Linked DNA regions of Homo sapiens. The protein of the gene in region 3 purifies or fractionates together with the protein of the main gene of each other region. This does not show direct contact. Each region holds a gene or a part of one and is shown on either strand. Other genes may lie near its edges.

What was found.
Region 1: the proteins of P2RX4 (region 3) and EIF2B1 purify together in Homo sapiens (affinity purification with mass spectrometry; 3 studies listed by BioGRID and IntAct, with this or other methods). This does not show direct contact.
Region 2: the proteins of P2RX4 (region 3) and COQ8B purify together in Homo sapiens (affinity purification with mass spectrometry; 3 studies listed by BioGRID and IntAct, with this or other methods). This does not show direct contact.
Region 4: the proteins of P2RX4 (region 3) and FAM20B purify together in Homo sapiens (affinity purification with mass spectrometry; 4 studies listed by BioGRID and IntAct, with this or other methods). This does not show direct contact.

Annotation. Positions count from the first base shown.
Region 1 is NC_000012.12:123,623,677-123,627,236, forward strand, and holds part of EIF2B1 (translation initiation factor eIF2B subunit alpha), read right to left. Parts: intron 3,481-3,560; coding exon 3,368-3,480; intron 2,818-3,367; coding exon 2,749-2,817; intron 1,187-2,748; coding exon 1,111-1,186; intron 1-1,110.
Region 2 is NC_000019.10:40,692,877-40,696,436, reverse strand, and holds part of COQ8B (atypical kinase COQ8B, mitochondrial), read left to right. Parts: intron 1-382; coding exon 383-448; intron 449-3,399; coding exon 3,400-3,486; intron 3,487-3,560.
Region 3 is NC_000012.12:121,223,592-121,227,151, reverse strand, and holds part of P2RX4 (P2X purinoceptor 4), read right to left. Parts: intron 1-3,560. UniProt on the Homo sapiens protein: ATP-gated nonselective transmembrane cation channel permeable to potassium, sodium and calcium. CTP, but not GTP or UTP, functions as a weak affinity agonist for P2RX4.
Region 4 is NC_000001.11:179,032,344-179,035,903, reverse strand, and holds part of FAM20B (glycosaminoglycan xylosylkinase), read right to left. Parts: intron 667-3,560; exon of another isoform or gene 226-666; intron 1-225. UniProt on the Homo sapiens protein: Responsible for the 2-O-phosphorylation of xylose in the glycosaminoglycan-protein linkage region of proteoglycans thereby regulating the amount of mature GAG chains.

The DNA.
Region 1 (3,560 bases), 2.4 Mb from region 3:
TTGGCCAGGCTGGTCTCGAACTCCTGACCTCAGATGATCTACCTGCCTCAGCCTCCCAAAGTGCTGGGATTATAGGCGTGAGCTACTACGCCCGGCCTTATGTTACATATATTTTAACTAAAAAAAGCTTTCATGAAGCTTTTCTAAATTAAATAATGGAGAGAGAGATTGTAATAAATTGAGGTCAAATGTGCTCAATTAAAATGAAAACAAATGACAGGCCGGCCACAGTGGCTCATGCCTGTAATCCTAGCACTTTGGGAAGTGGAAAGATTGCTTCAGGCTAGGAGTTCAAGACTGCAGTAAGCTATGATCACTGTACTACACTACAGCCTGGGCAACAGAGTGAATGTGTCTCTATTTTAAAATATATATAATATTTATATATAAATACACGTATTTTATACATACATACTTTATATGTAAATATATAAATAATATTTTAAAAATATTTGTGTATATATATTATGTGTGTGTATATATATGCATAAATAAAACATACATATACACATAAATAAAGCAAAAACCAGACAAACCCCAATTCCAATTCAAGCCAATTTTGTATAAATATAAATTACACTTTTTTTTTTTTTTTTTTTACTGAGACAGGGTCTCACCATCGCCCAGGCTGGAATGCAGTAGTGTGATCATAACTTACTGCAACCTCAAATTCCTGGGCTCACGTGATACTCCTGCCTCAGCTTCCTGGGCAGCTGGAACTACAGGCAAGCACCACCACGCCCAGCTAATTTTTCTAATTTTTTGTAGAGACAGGGTTTCACTATGTTGCCCAGGCTGGTCTTGAACTCAAGGCCTCAAGTGATCCTCCCACCCTGGCCTCTCAAATTGCTAGGATTACAGGTATAAGGCATCACACCTGACCAAATTACATTGTCTTCATTTATGTAGATCAATCTAAAAAAGATTTGACTGAAACTGGACTGCCCATTGCTATGACTTACGGGAAATGGGCAACAACTCAATACCATGATGAAGTCCTGAAGTGAAGCAGGATTAGAAGGAACCATAATCAACACTGCTGTGGTGTCCTAGGTCAGCAAGACACCTCCAAGTCTTGAGCAGGGAACTGGGGAGAACTGATGCTCTTACCTTGTTAATAATTCCTCCGTTTTCAACAACTCCTTCAGCACCAACTATGACAAGATCTGCTTTCTCCATGATGTAGCTAAGGGGAAAAAAAGCTTTTCATGCTTTATTTTCTTGGCTCTAACGAGTAGCATCATCATCTGCAAAGATCAATATTCCATTTCTATCAAGGTAAGTTCCTCCCATAACTACCTGTTTTTTTTAAAGCGCACTTAACACGCGATAGACCCCTGGCATTGTTACCAGGGGTGTTTTCTGGTCATGACCCTACAATGAGACATACACTTCACACTGCCGCCCGGCGCATGCACACGTACATATGTGTGTAAGTGAAGCAAGAATGTCCTGACACAGCAGTCTTCCTTCCAAGTGTGGTATCCTCTACTTTCTTTTCTACTTCAGCACAAACCAAACAAAATTTTAAAATCTGATGAGATCTGAAGTTGGACAAAAGTGTTATGCAGTTTTAAAAATCTTTCTTTTTTTTTTTGAGACCAGATCTCACTCTGTTGCCCAGGCTAGAGTGCAGTGGCATGATCTCAGCCCAAACCTCTACCTCTTAGGCTCAAGCGATCCTCCCATTTCAGCCTCCCAGGTAGCTGGGACCACAGCATATGCCACCATGCCCTAGAGATGGGGTTTCGCCATATTGCCCAGGCTGGTCTCCAACTCCTGAACTCTAGCGATCCACCTGCCTCAGGTATGAGCCACTGTGCCCAACCTTAAGAATCTTTCTGGTAGGATGAAGGCCAATTTAGTCTTTAAAATGAGCAATTAGTAGAATTCCTCAAAATCCTTACTTTTGAACACATTCCTAATTTCCTTAATCATCTATCTTGTTTTCATTCCAAGAGATCACTACTCTTGTTTTTTCTTGGGAAATACACTGACAATCCCAGGAACATGTGACTTGGCTTTGCGACACAAGCTGCATCTTCTAGGTGAGACAAAGCATCCCAGTATGCCACTGAGGACAGCCAGGTCTTCACAGAAATACAGAGCCCTGATTACCCTCTGCTGATCCCAACTGACCTTTGTACTTTGCTCTTAAAATGCATTTGCACTGGCTGGGCGTGGTGGCTCACGCCTGTAATCCCAGCACTTTGGGAGGCCAAGGCGGGCAGATCACCTGAGTTCAGGAGTTCGAGACCAGCCTGGCCAACATGGTGAAACCCCATCTCTACTAAAAATATAAAAGAATTAACGTGGCATGGTGGCATGCGCCGGTAATCCCAGCTACTTAGGAGGCTGAGGCAGGAGAATCGCTTGAACCTGGGAGGTGGAGATTGCAGTGAACCAAGATCATGCCATTGCACTCCAGCCTGGGCAACAGGGCAAGACTCCATCTCAAAAAAACAAAAAACAAACAAACAAAAACAACAACAACAACAAACTCAACACTTACAGCCATAAAGCTATAGACACAACTCCCACTCTCCCCAACATCCTACAGCTCTGTCTTCTTTGTATGCTATCACAACCTCATAACAAGCTTGCTGGTTTAGGGCAGCTATTAATTAAGAAGTAGGACGCTACCTGGTGTGGCTTTATGAACGGGACTCAAACTTTCAATCTGAAAACTTGCTGTAAGCCAGCATGGGGTGGGGGAGGTGATTATGGCTGGGGAAGATGGGCACTCACCCGACAGCAGCATCTAGCACCACAGTGACAGGGACGTTGAGGTGGCAGAGGGCTTTGGCCATTTTCTTACTGAAGATGACATTTTGAGAACGTTAGAGAAAGTACAAGACAGTACCACAGTGATGTATGTCACCTAATGTGGACAGTGGATGTTTGCTTGAAACTCACATTAATACTAATGGGTTAAGGGGCAGATCCCAATACTTTGGACTAAGGAAACAAGAATTTGAGTTCTTTAGAAAGAAGTATTTTTGGAAAACTATACTCTTAGACTCTGGGTAAGAGATGTAAATTCAGGAAAAAAGGAGGAAGTTTTGCTTTGATTATCGTCTAGAGAGAGGGAGATATAAGTTACCTATTCCTTGATAAAAATCTTCATCAATACAATCTCTGCTCTTCCACGGAGTTAACTACTTAAGTGAAACCCCTAGATCATATACTGCGGCCTGCTGCAAATTCAGTGATTTTTCTTCCAAAGGCAGGAAAAGGTACAATGAAAGGCAGTGCTGACTGCTGGCAAGCTGGGGGCACATTCTGGTTCTGATCCTGTTGGACTGTAATCCGCAGTTTGCTCTGTAAAATTATGGCTGGGCACATAACTGAACAGAAAGGTACTTGCCCTGACAAATCAGGCTGTGACTCTGTGACGTATACACTAAATCGCTTCTTGGCCGCCACGGCTGCTTCCAGGACTCTCAGGACCACTCTGGAGTAGGCGTGAGTCAATATTGTCTGTGGACCGAGAAAGCTTTGTCAAAGGGGCAGGCTCCTTGCTGCTCACTCACACCCTCTGCACTGCGGCACGTGTTCCC
Region 2 (3,560 bases), on a different chromosome or scaffold from region 3:
CCTTGGCCTCCCAAAGTGCTAGGGTTAGAGGTGTGAGCCACCACGTGTGGCCGGATGGGGAGTATTTTATATTTTAGGCTGGGTGGCAGGATTTGTGAGTATTCATTTTACTTTTCTATATCTTTTATTATTCTCTGGATTTTTTTTCTGGGTCTAAAATTTGTTATTGCATAAACAATTAGAACTAAAAGAAAAAAAAGCCTTCAGCTAGGGGGTCGGTTGGAAACGGGAGATGAGGCCAGGAGCCCAGTGAGGCAGCCAGGCAGGGACTCTGGCAGGAGCAGGCAGGGTCATGGGGAGGGAGACAGATCCTGGCTGCCCCAATAGACAGTGAGGGTGTGAATGGGATCCCAGCATTCCTTTCACCATTCCTTGCTTCCAGGTGACCCTGCTGGACTTTGGTGCAAGCCGGGAGTTTGGGACAGAGTTCACAGACCATTACATCGAGGTGAGTCTCCCCCAGACCCCAGGGCCTCTGAAAGGCTGAGGCTCAAGCCATATACTGAGGCAGAGGAGTAAGAAGGCGAAATGCAGTTTCTGGAATTAAGAAATAATAAATAATAGTAATACTCGTAGCAACTAGCACACACCAAGCACTTAATATGTCAGGCTCCATCTTTAGTGCTTACGTATAGGAACCGATATAAACCACACAGCAACACAATGCGAAAAGGACCGTTTTTAGGCCCGTTTTAGGCCAGATGAAGTAACTGGGTCCTGGAGGGGTTAAGTCACGTGCCCAAGATCACAGCAGACTTGGGATTCAAATTCAGGTGGTCCAGGTCCAGAGCCCAAGCTTCCAACCACTGCCCAGCTCCCTCCTAAGAGAAAGGCCCACAGTGACCATCTTGTCACCTCTCCAGACCCCATGCTGTCCAGGGCCCTGGTGTCCAGCCCAGGTGTGTGTCCCTGGGGGCAACTCTGTCTACAGGAGGTGTTTCCTCACGTACTTGGCTCGTCTCTCCCACCCACTGGGGTCAGTTTGTCTTAGAGGCTGCAGAGAATACCATTTCATTCGTTGTTGAGATTGGACATTTGCCCTGGGTCCTCTAATCATGTAGCCATCAATCTAAACGTTTTCTTTTCCTTTTTTTTCTTTTCTTTTTTTTTTTTTTAATTGAGACAGAGTCTTGCTCTGTCGCCCAGGCTGGAGTGCAGTGGCTCGATCTTGGCTCACCACAACCTCCACCTCCTGGGTTCAAGCGATTCTCCTGCCTCAGCTTCTCGAGTAGCTGGGATTACAGGCATGTGCCACCACGCCCGGCTAATTTTTGTATTTTTAGTAGAGATGGGGTTTCACCATGTTGCCCAGGCTGGTCTCGAACTGCTGACCTCAGGTGATCCTCCTGCCTTGGCCTCCCAAAGTGCTGGGATTACAGGCATGAGCCCTCCTGCCCAGCCAATCTAAATGTTTTCTGACCCCTCCTCTGTGCCCAGCTCTATTCTAGGCAAAGCTGGAGACACAGCAGTGACCTGGGCCCAGCCTAGGCCCCTCCTCACAGAACTCATAGTCAGTGAGGCGACAGTGAGGACCTAGCATGGACAGGGCTGGGATGGGGGAAGCGCAGGGCACTGTGAGCCCAGAGGAGGAGCCTGAGCCAGCCTGGGGAGCCAAGGAGGGCTTCCCGGAGGAGGGAGTGTCAGCATTGAGACCTGAGGGATGAGGGGGGCCAACTGGGAAAAGGCTCGGAGGGTATTTCAGATAGACAACATGTGCCAAGACGAGGCAGTGATAAGGGACAGTCCCATTAGAGCAGCATTTCTCAGACTTGGATGTGCATGTGAAGCCTGGTGATCCTGTGCAAGTGCAGATTCTGGTCTGGAGGTGGGTGTAAGATGCTATGTTCTGACACGCACCCATGTGAGGCCAGGGCTACCCGTATGGGGACCACACTGGTAGTAGTAAGGCCCTAGAGCACCCAAAGGAAGCTCCCATTCTGAGTGGGAGGGCAGGTCGGGGGGCAGCACAGTGACGAGGCTGCAGCAAATCACTGCGGATTTTAGAGGCTGCGCTCTACAGCTCGTACTGTATCCAGGTGCCCTGCGGAGCCGTGGAAAAGATTTGAGCAGGGAAGGGATGCAGTCAGAATTTGAAAACTCCCTCTGAATAAGAAGTGGTCTCTAAGCCTGGGGGTGGGAGCTCAGGGCAGCTGTGGAGAGGGGCAGAGGGGTGGCTGGGAGATGCCCAGCTGGCAGTCCATGGGAGCAGACGGGCTAGAAGTTGGGGACAGAGGTGTCTAGGGGTCTGGTCTGGGGACTGGTGGGGCCACCTCTGAGACAGGAACAGGAAGAGGAGGTGATAACCCCTTACACACAGGCCCCTTGGGGCCCTCTCTGCCGGCCACTGAGGCACAAAGCTGAGACCCTTCTTCTCCCCACTGACACCCTCCCCTCCCACCCAGGCCTGCAGCCTTTGCCACTTTATAAAAGCCCTGGCTTCTGAGGACCACAGGCCTGACAGATGGCCAGACATGCTCGGGCAGGGGGAGCAGAGAGGGAATGGAATTAATCCCGAATCCCCCTCCTCACAAAAAAGGGCAACCCAGTAGTGAGTGGTGTGACCCGGTTCCACTCCCTACTCCGGGTCTGCTTCCCCTTCTGTGAAATAGGGACCCCCGTGCCCACCTCTTAATAATGGTAGATTATAGTATTTACGGTGCTTCCTGCATGAGACACAGCGCCAGGCAGGCCACAGGCATCACCTTCTTTATCCTCCCAACAGCCCCATGAGGAAGGCACTTTTGGCATCCCCACTTCACAGATGAGAAAGTGGAGGCCCAACAGGCCGGCAGGTGGCAGAGCTGGGACGGAACCCTAGCCAGCTGGCCCCAGCTGGGCATCTCTCCATGCCCACAACTCCTGCCCTGTGTGTGTGAGCTCATGGCTGGAGAGCTGCTCTGCTCCACACGCTCATTTGCTAAAGCAAGGTTCACCCAGGGCCTCCTCAGCACCAGACCCTGTGCCCCGTGCGACTAAACCCAACTGGGATCCTTGCTCTCACGGGGCTCAAAGTCCAGTGTGGGAGACAGAGAGATGGCCCCTGGCAACTTTGGATGCAGTTCTGGGTCACGCTCATACCCGTCCAGTTGAGTGTTTGGACTCACCAGCAGCCCTGACACTTGTTTCTTGCACTGTTTCACTGTGGCAGTTCCCGGGCAGGCCCCACATTGCCCTCTAGGTGGGCAGGATCCCTAACCACCTCCACTCCCAGGCTCTGGAAGAGTCTTTAAGGGAGTCACAGACAGGCAAAGTTGGGAGCAGGAAGCTTCCAGGTGAGGGAGGGCCCAGGCAGATGAGAATGGAGGTGGGTACATGGGAGGCCCAGGCTTCCAGCTCCTCTTCTCCAGAGCCCCCTTGAGCCCCGGCCTTTGTCCCTCTAACTCCCACCCGTCTCCCCAGGTGGTGAAGGCTGCAGCTGATGGAGACAGAGACTGTGTCCTGCAGAAGTCCAGGGACCTCAAATTCCTCACAGGCTTTGAAACCAAGGTGGGGAGACACTGGGGGAGAAAGGGGCTGGTGTCTGTTGGTGGGGTGCAGTGGGGGGCTGCTTATCTCCACTG
Region 3 (3,560 bases):
AAGGCTGGGACCAAGGGGCTTCTCTCAGGTTTTTTTTTTTTTTGAGATGGAGTCTTGCTCCTGTTGCTCAGGCTGGAGTGCAATGCCGCGATCTCGGCTCACTGCAACCTCTGGGTTCAAGTGATTCTCCTGCCTCAGCCTCCCGAGTAGCTGGGGTTACAGGCGTGCACCACCACGCCTGGCTAATTTTTTCATATTTTTAGTAGAGATGGGGTTTCACCATGTTGGTCAGGCTGGTCTCAAACTCCTGACCTCAGATGATCCACCCACCTCGGTCTCCCAAAGTGCTGGGATTACAGGCATGGGCCACTGTGCCTGGACTTCTCTCAGGTCTTCAAAGTCCCCACTCCCTCAAGAGGGATGGCTTACAACAGGGGTGTTCAAGTTTTTGTCATTTCCTGTACCGTAACACCCACACACACACCTGTGTACCTCACATGTAATACTTTAAGATCAACTCACCTTTTTAGAGAAATTGAGATGAAATTCACATAACATAAAATTAACCATTTTAAACTGGACAATTCTGTGGCATTTAGTACATTCATAATGTTGTGCAATCATCACCTCTGTCTAGTTCCAAAACGTTTTAGTCTTTGTTCTGTTTTTGAGACAGGGTCTTATTCTGTCACCCGGGCTGGAGCGCAGTGGCATGATCTTGGCTCACTGCAACTTCTATCTCCCGGGTTCAAGCAATTCTCGTGCCTCAGCCTCCTGAGTAGTGGGATTACAGGTGCGCACCACCACGCCTGGCTAATTTTTATATTTTTAGTAGAGAGGGGGTTTCACCATGTTGGCCAGGCTGGTTTTGAACTCCTGGCCTCAAGTGATCCACCCGTCTCTGCCTCCCAAAGTGCTGGGATTATAGGCATGAGCCACTGTGCCTGGCCAATGTTATTTCTTATATCAGTGTGCACTTAAAAATCATTTTACACCGCATTAGATCTGCAACAGTGATGTCCAATAAAAGTATATTGTGAGGCCAGGTGTGGTGGCTCACGCTGTAATCCCAGCACTTTGGGAGGCTAAGGCAGGTGGGTTGCTTGAGCCCAGGAGTTCAAGACCAGCCTGGGCAACATGGTGAGACCCTGTCTCTACAAAAAATAAGTTGGCTGGGCATGGTGGTGCGCCCCTGTGGTCCCAGCTACACAGGAGGATGAGGCGGGAAGATCACTTGAGTCCAGGAGTTCGAAGCTGCAGTGAGCCATGATCGTTATCACTGCACTGGGTGACAGAGCAAGATCCTGTGTCAAAAAAAAAGTATCTTATGAGACACAACTACAAGCCACACTCCAACTTAAAGTTTCCTAATAGCCACACTACAAAGTAAAAGAAACAAGTAAAATTTTATACAGTAACCCAAAATATTACTTCAACATGTAACCAACATACAAAAATCAATGAGATATTATACATTCTTTTTTTCATAATAAATATTCAGGGCCGGGCGTGGTGACTCACGCGTGCAATCCCAGCACTTTGGGAGGCCAAGGCAGGTGGATCACGAGGTCAGGAGATCGAGACCATCCTGGCTAACACAGTGAAACCCCCTCTCTACTAAAAATACAAAAAAATTAGCTGGGTGTGGTGGTGGGCGCCTGTAGTCCCAGCTACTGGGGAGGCTGAGGCAGGAGAATGGCGTGAGCGCAGGAGGCGGAGCTTGCAGTGAACAGAGATGGCGCCACTGCACTCCAGCCTGGGCGACAGAGCGAGACTCCATCTCAAATAAATAAATAAATACAAATAAATAAAAAATAAATAAATAATAAACAGAATCGGGCTGGGTGCAGTGGCTCACACCTATAATCCCAGCACTTTGGGAGGCTGAGGCAGGTGGATAACCTGAGGTCAGGAGTTCGAGACCAGCCTGGCCAACATGGTGAAACCTGCATCTCTACTAAAAATACAAAAATTAGCAAGGTGTGGTGGGGGGTGCCTATAATCCCAGCTACTCAGGAGGCTGAGGCAGGAGAATCACTTGAACCCGGGAGGCAGAGGTTGTGGTGAGCCAAGATCACGCCACTGTACTCCAGCCTGGGCGACAGAGCGAGACTTCGTCTCAAAAAAAAAAAAAAAAAATCCAATTTGATGATAAGTGCACTTCCTATGGACAGCCCATCTCCTTTCGGACCCAGCCATATTTCAATTTTCAATAGCCACGCGTGGCCAGAGTCTCCTGTGTTGGAGAGCACAGCTCTGTGAGATCCTCTCCAGCTCTAAGATGCTAGGATTCCTTTTCTTTTTCTATCTCCTTCCTTTGCCTTAGCAATCTCTAAATCTGCAGTTCTCAGCCTTTCCTTCTGTCTCAACACACCCAGGATGAGGTTCAGTGGCTTCCTGCTCCCCGGGGCTCATGGAGACCTCGGTCTGAGCTCTCGGTGAGAAAGGCCCTAGGCTGCACGCACTTCTCAGAGCGCTGCCCGGACTCCACCCCATGAAGCACAGCCAATTACAACCACGAAGAATGTTATTCTAGAGCAACCTTGAACCTGGCTAGTTTAGTTGATTTTTAAATTTTTATTTATTTATTTTTTTAAATTTTTATTTTTTGAGACAGAGTCTCTCTCTGTCGCCCAAGCTAGAGTGCAGAAGAGCGATCTCAGCTCACTGCAACCTCCACTTCCCGGGTTCAAGCAATTCTCCTACCTCAGCCTCCCAAGTAGCTGGGATTACAGACAAGCGCCACCCTAACCCTAATTTTTGTATTTTTAGTGGAGACGGGGTTTCTCCATGTTGGCCAGGCTGGTCTTGAACTCCTGGCCTCAGATGATCCGACTGCCTCAGCCTCCCAAAGTGTTAGGATTACAGCATGAGCCACCGCGCCAGGATGAACCTGTCTAGTTTAGTTTAAAATACACTGTAGCAAACATCCGTTGTTTTCTTCCCAGCATCTGCTCCCAGCTTTTCTGGTAACAGAACCCCAAATGTCCTTTGGAAGCCATATCTCCCCAATGCTTGCCTATGTCACTTGGGTGGGTCTGACTCTAGCCCCAGCTGCAGAGGTGGGCATGTGACCCAGGCCCAAGCTGATAAGCAAAACCCATTCCCCAGCCACAGAGATGGGTTGAGAGATATGGCCATTGATACGATGATGGACAGGTCTAGAATCTCCAGGGACAGCTGGAAAGGGAGACTCAGACTTGGGGGGCTGTAAGTGCAGCGCTGCCTCCCGGGCTATGCTGTGGGTCCTGCGAGTGAAGCTGGCACGGCGGGATGCAGAGCCAGGAAGGGAGACTAGGGTGTTGTCCTTTGTCTCTCACTCTGTCGCCCAGGCAGGAGTGCAGTGGCCTCTGTCGCCCAGGAGGGAGTGCAGTGGCACCATCTCAGCTCAGCAACCTCCTCCTCCCAGGTTCAAGAGATTCTTCTGCCTCAGCCTGGCACGAGATTCTCCTGGCCACGCTGGATCTTTTTGGTCAGCCGGACAATACACTGCCCCCCCGCTGTGCACGCATGTGTATGTGTGTATGTGTTTGTGCACATGTGCTTAAGGCACTGAGAACTGTTTCCTGTCAGTTATTTGCAACTGACAGAGTCCTAACATACAAGGAAGTCAGTCACCT
Region 4 (3,560 bases), on a different chromosome or scaffold from region 3:
CCCACCTCAGCCCCCCAATGTGCTGTGATTACAGGTGTGAGCCACCACGCCCAGCCGGCTAATTCACTTTCATTCTACACACACACACACACAAACACACTCATCCTACTCATTTGATAAATATTGTATAAGGGCAAACGTAAGACTATGAAGTTGTTTTGGGAGAAGAGATATAGATTCCACAGAAAAAAAGTGAGGTCTTAATGTAAAGTCTTCTTTCAAGAATCTCCTCTCCGGTCCATGCCTCCAAGATGACAAAGAAAAGAAGGAACAAAAGTCATGTCAAAAAGGGCCACAGTTACGTGCAGCCATTCGCTGCATGAACTGTGCCTGATGCGTGCCTAAGGACAAGGCCATTAAGAAATTCATCATTCGAAATATAGTGGAGGCCACAGCAGTCAGGGACATTTCTGAAGCAGCGTCTTCAATGCCTATGTGCTTCCCAAGCTGTTTGTGAAGCTACATTACTGTGTGAATTGTGCAATTCACAGCAAAGTAGTCAGGAATCAATCTCATGAAGCCCACGAGGACCGAACACCCCTACCCCGATTTAGACCTGTGGGTGCTGCCCCACGACCCCCACCAAAGCCCGTGTAAGGAGCTGAGTCCTTAAAGACTGAAGACAGACCATTCTCTGGAGAAAAATACAATGGAAATTGTACTTAAAAAAAAATCTGGCTGATGGTGGAGGAACATTTACAGAAAAGCATGTTGGTGTGGGGGTCTACAGATCATGTGATAAATCTCAATGTATGTGGCTGCCAAGGAACATGAGAACACCTGGCCTTAACGCTTACTACCTTACTAGAGGGTCCTACAAGCCACCAATGAGATTCCAAGCCTTATTAGAAGTGTCCCCTTGAATCACCCTCTGATTAAGTGACAAGCTCACAATACTACCTCTGAGGTCATAGAGAAGAAATAAATACCAACCTCTGCTCATAGCAACTAAAAGTGAAAGTTATGGTAAAAGTAAACATAAGTTTCACTTCTTGTGTTTCTAATTTAATGGTCAAATCAGGTTCTTATGACTTAAGTAGAATGTAACATGCCTTGTAAATGCAAAGCACCACAAAGGAAATGCTTAGTAAGAATGCTTCATGCAGAGGACTAACAACAAAAGAGATCTGAGGCAAAGGGGTAGGATTTCTTAACTGGTATAGAATTATATTTATGCACACAATCTCTTTGCCCTTGATCCTGAGTAGGAACTACAAGGATCCTTTAACAAAATACTTTGGTAATTATTGGTTTGACTAAAACTCTGAAGGTTTGGTGAGTATAGGAGGTAAGACTTGAATTTGAATTTTTTGTAGACTGTCTGCAAAGACAGACACTAACAATTTATCCTATCAAGAGGTGGAGTCAGGGCCAAACATGCTGGTTTACACCTGTAATCCTAACACTTTGGGAGGCTGAGGCAGAAGGACTGCCTGAGCCCAGGAATTCGAGACCAGCCTGGGTAACACAGTGAGACCCTGTCTCCATTATTAAAAAAAAAGAGAGAGAGAGAGAGAGAAAGAGGTGGAGTCTGTTTTTCCTCCCCTTGAATCTGGGCTGGCTTTGTAACTTGTTTTGACAATAGAATGTTGTGGAAATGACTGTGTGCCAGTTCTGGGCCCTGGTCTTAAGAGACCTGGCAGCTTCCACTTTCACGGGATCTAGCTACCATGTAAAGAAGCTCAAGCTAAGACTACCAAATGCCAAGTGATCTATATGGAGAGAGGTCCAGCCAACCCTTGGCTATCCTGGTCACCCCAGGTGAAGTGCCAGACATGAAGATGACACTTTCAAGGACATTCCAGTCCCAGTTGTGGTCTGGCAGAATGTAGTCACTGTTGTGACCCCAGCCTATACCATTTGAGCAGGAACACGTGAGACCAGATGACCTATATAATTATAAGAAATAACAGGCTGGGCGCAGTGGCTCACACCTGTAATCCCAGCACTTTGGGAGGTGAGATGGGCGGATCACCCAAGGTAGGGAGTTTGAGACCAGCCTGGCCAACATGGTGAAACCCCATCTCTACTAAAATACAAAAAATTAGCTGGGCATGGTGGCACATGCCTGTAGTCCCAGCTACTTGAGAGGCTGAGGCAGGAGAATCGCTTGAACCCAGGAGGCGGAGGTTGCAGTGAGCCGACATCACGCCACTACACTCCAGCCTGGTGACAGAGCAAGACTGTCTCAAAAGAAAAAAAGAAAAAGAAAAAGAAAGAAAGAAATAACAAATCATTGTCTTAACCCACTATTATTTTGAGGTAGTTTGTAAAACCCAACATTCTCACATCTGTTCTGCTCCTATCAACTCCTTTTGGGGATAGTAAAAATACCAGGGGAGAAGACATAGGGAAATAAATTACGTGACTAAAAACAATTATCTCAGGGAGGGAGTAATCACTAAATTAACCATTAAGTGCAAATAAAAATTGGTTTGATAAATTGTTAGGTCATATTTGTAAATTATTATTAATGGCTTCTAGGAGCAATACACTCATTATAAAAGTTACATGTCATTTATATTTTTCTGTTTTCATTGTATATATTTAGAAAGATACATAATTAACAAAGTCTCTTAAAGGTACCACAAGAAGAAATAGATTCTCAACTGGATCATTTACTAAAATCCACTTGCATACTTCAGAGCCCTACTTAGACTTATGCAGAGCAATCAAGGCTAACCTCACACATTCACACACTGACACATGTCCGGTTTATAAAGCCTAACTTTTGTACTTCAGCCAAAACATAAATAGCAAAAATCACATCTTTTAGTGCAAAAAAAGTTAGACACACACACGCTTTTACCGTGGGCTGTCTGGTATACTGCCCTTTTGATTTTTCACTAGCAGTGACAGTAGGGCACTGTGCATATTATTATTAACTGTTATGAGTTTACACCCCGTTCCCTAGAAATAAATGTCTCTACTGATGGTTAGTGGCAGTGATAAGTAAAATTAAGAGCATTCAGAAGTCTTTTAGTATTGTGTGACAGTCAAGATGTCCAGAAAGTCAAAACCTCCAATATTAAACAGCATTACATGTTTATTATCTCAGTAAATGCTGAGTACCCTGGGAAAACCAGCCCACTCCTGCTTTGCTGCCTGCCACAACAGCATGCTATTCTTCCTTTCATCTTCACATGAGGGTCTTCAACTAAAAATAAAAACTAATACTAAGTAATAGCATTAATCAGTATCTATAGATATTTTTTCTTCTTTTCTGTGCTAATTATCCACTTAAGAAATAGCTTCTTAATTCACCTTCTTATTTTAAATATAAGCTTTCTGTAGCAGAGGGGTTAAAAGCATGTCCTCTGGATTCAGAATGCCTAGGCCTGGATGCTTCCTTTACCACCTAATGTGGGTCTTGGGAAAGATATTTAACTTCTGACCTCTCTGGGTCTCAGTTTCTGCATATAAAAAAATGAAACAAGAATACTATTACCTAACTCACAGGGTTGTTAAAAATGAATGAGCCAGCTACTCGGGAGGCTGAGGCTGCAGTGAATCAAGATCATGCCACTGCATTCCAGCCTGGGTGACAGAGCAAGATCCTG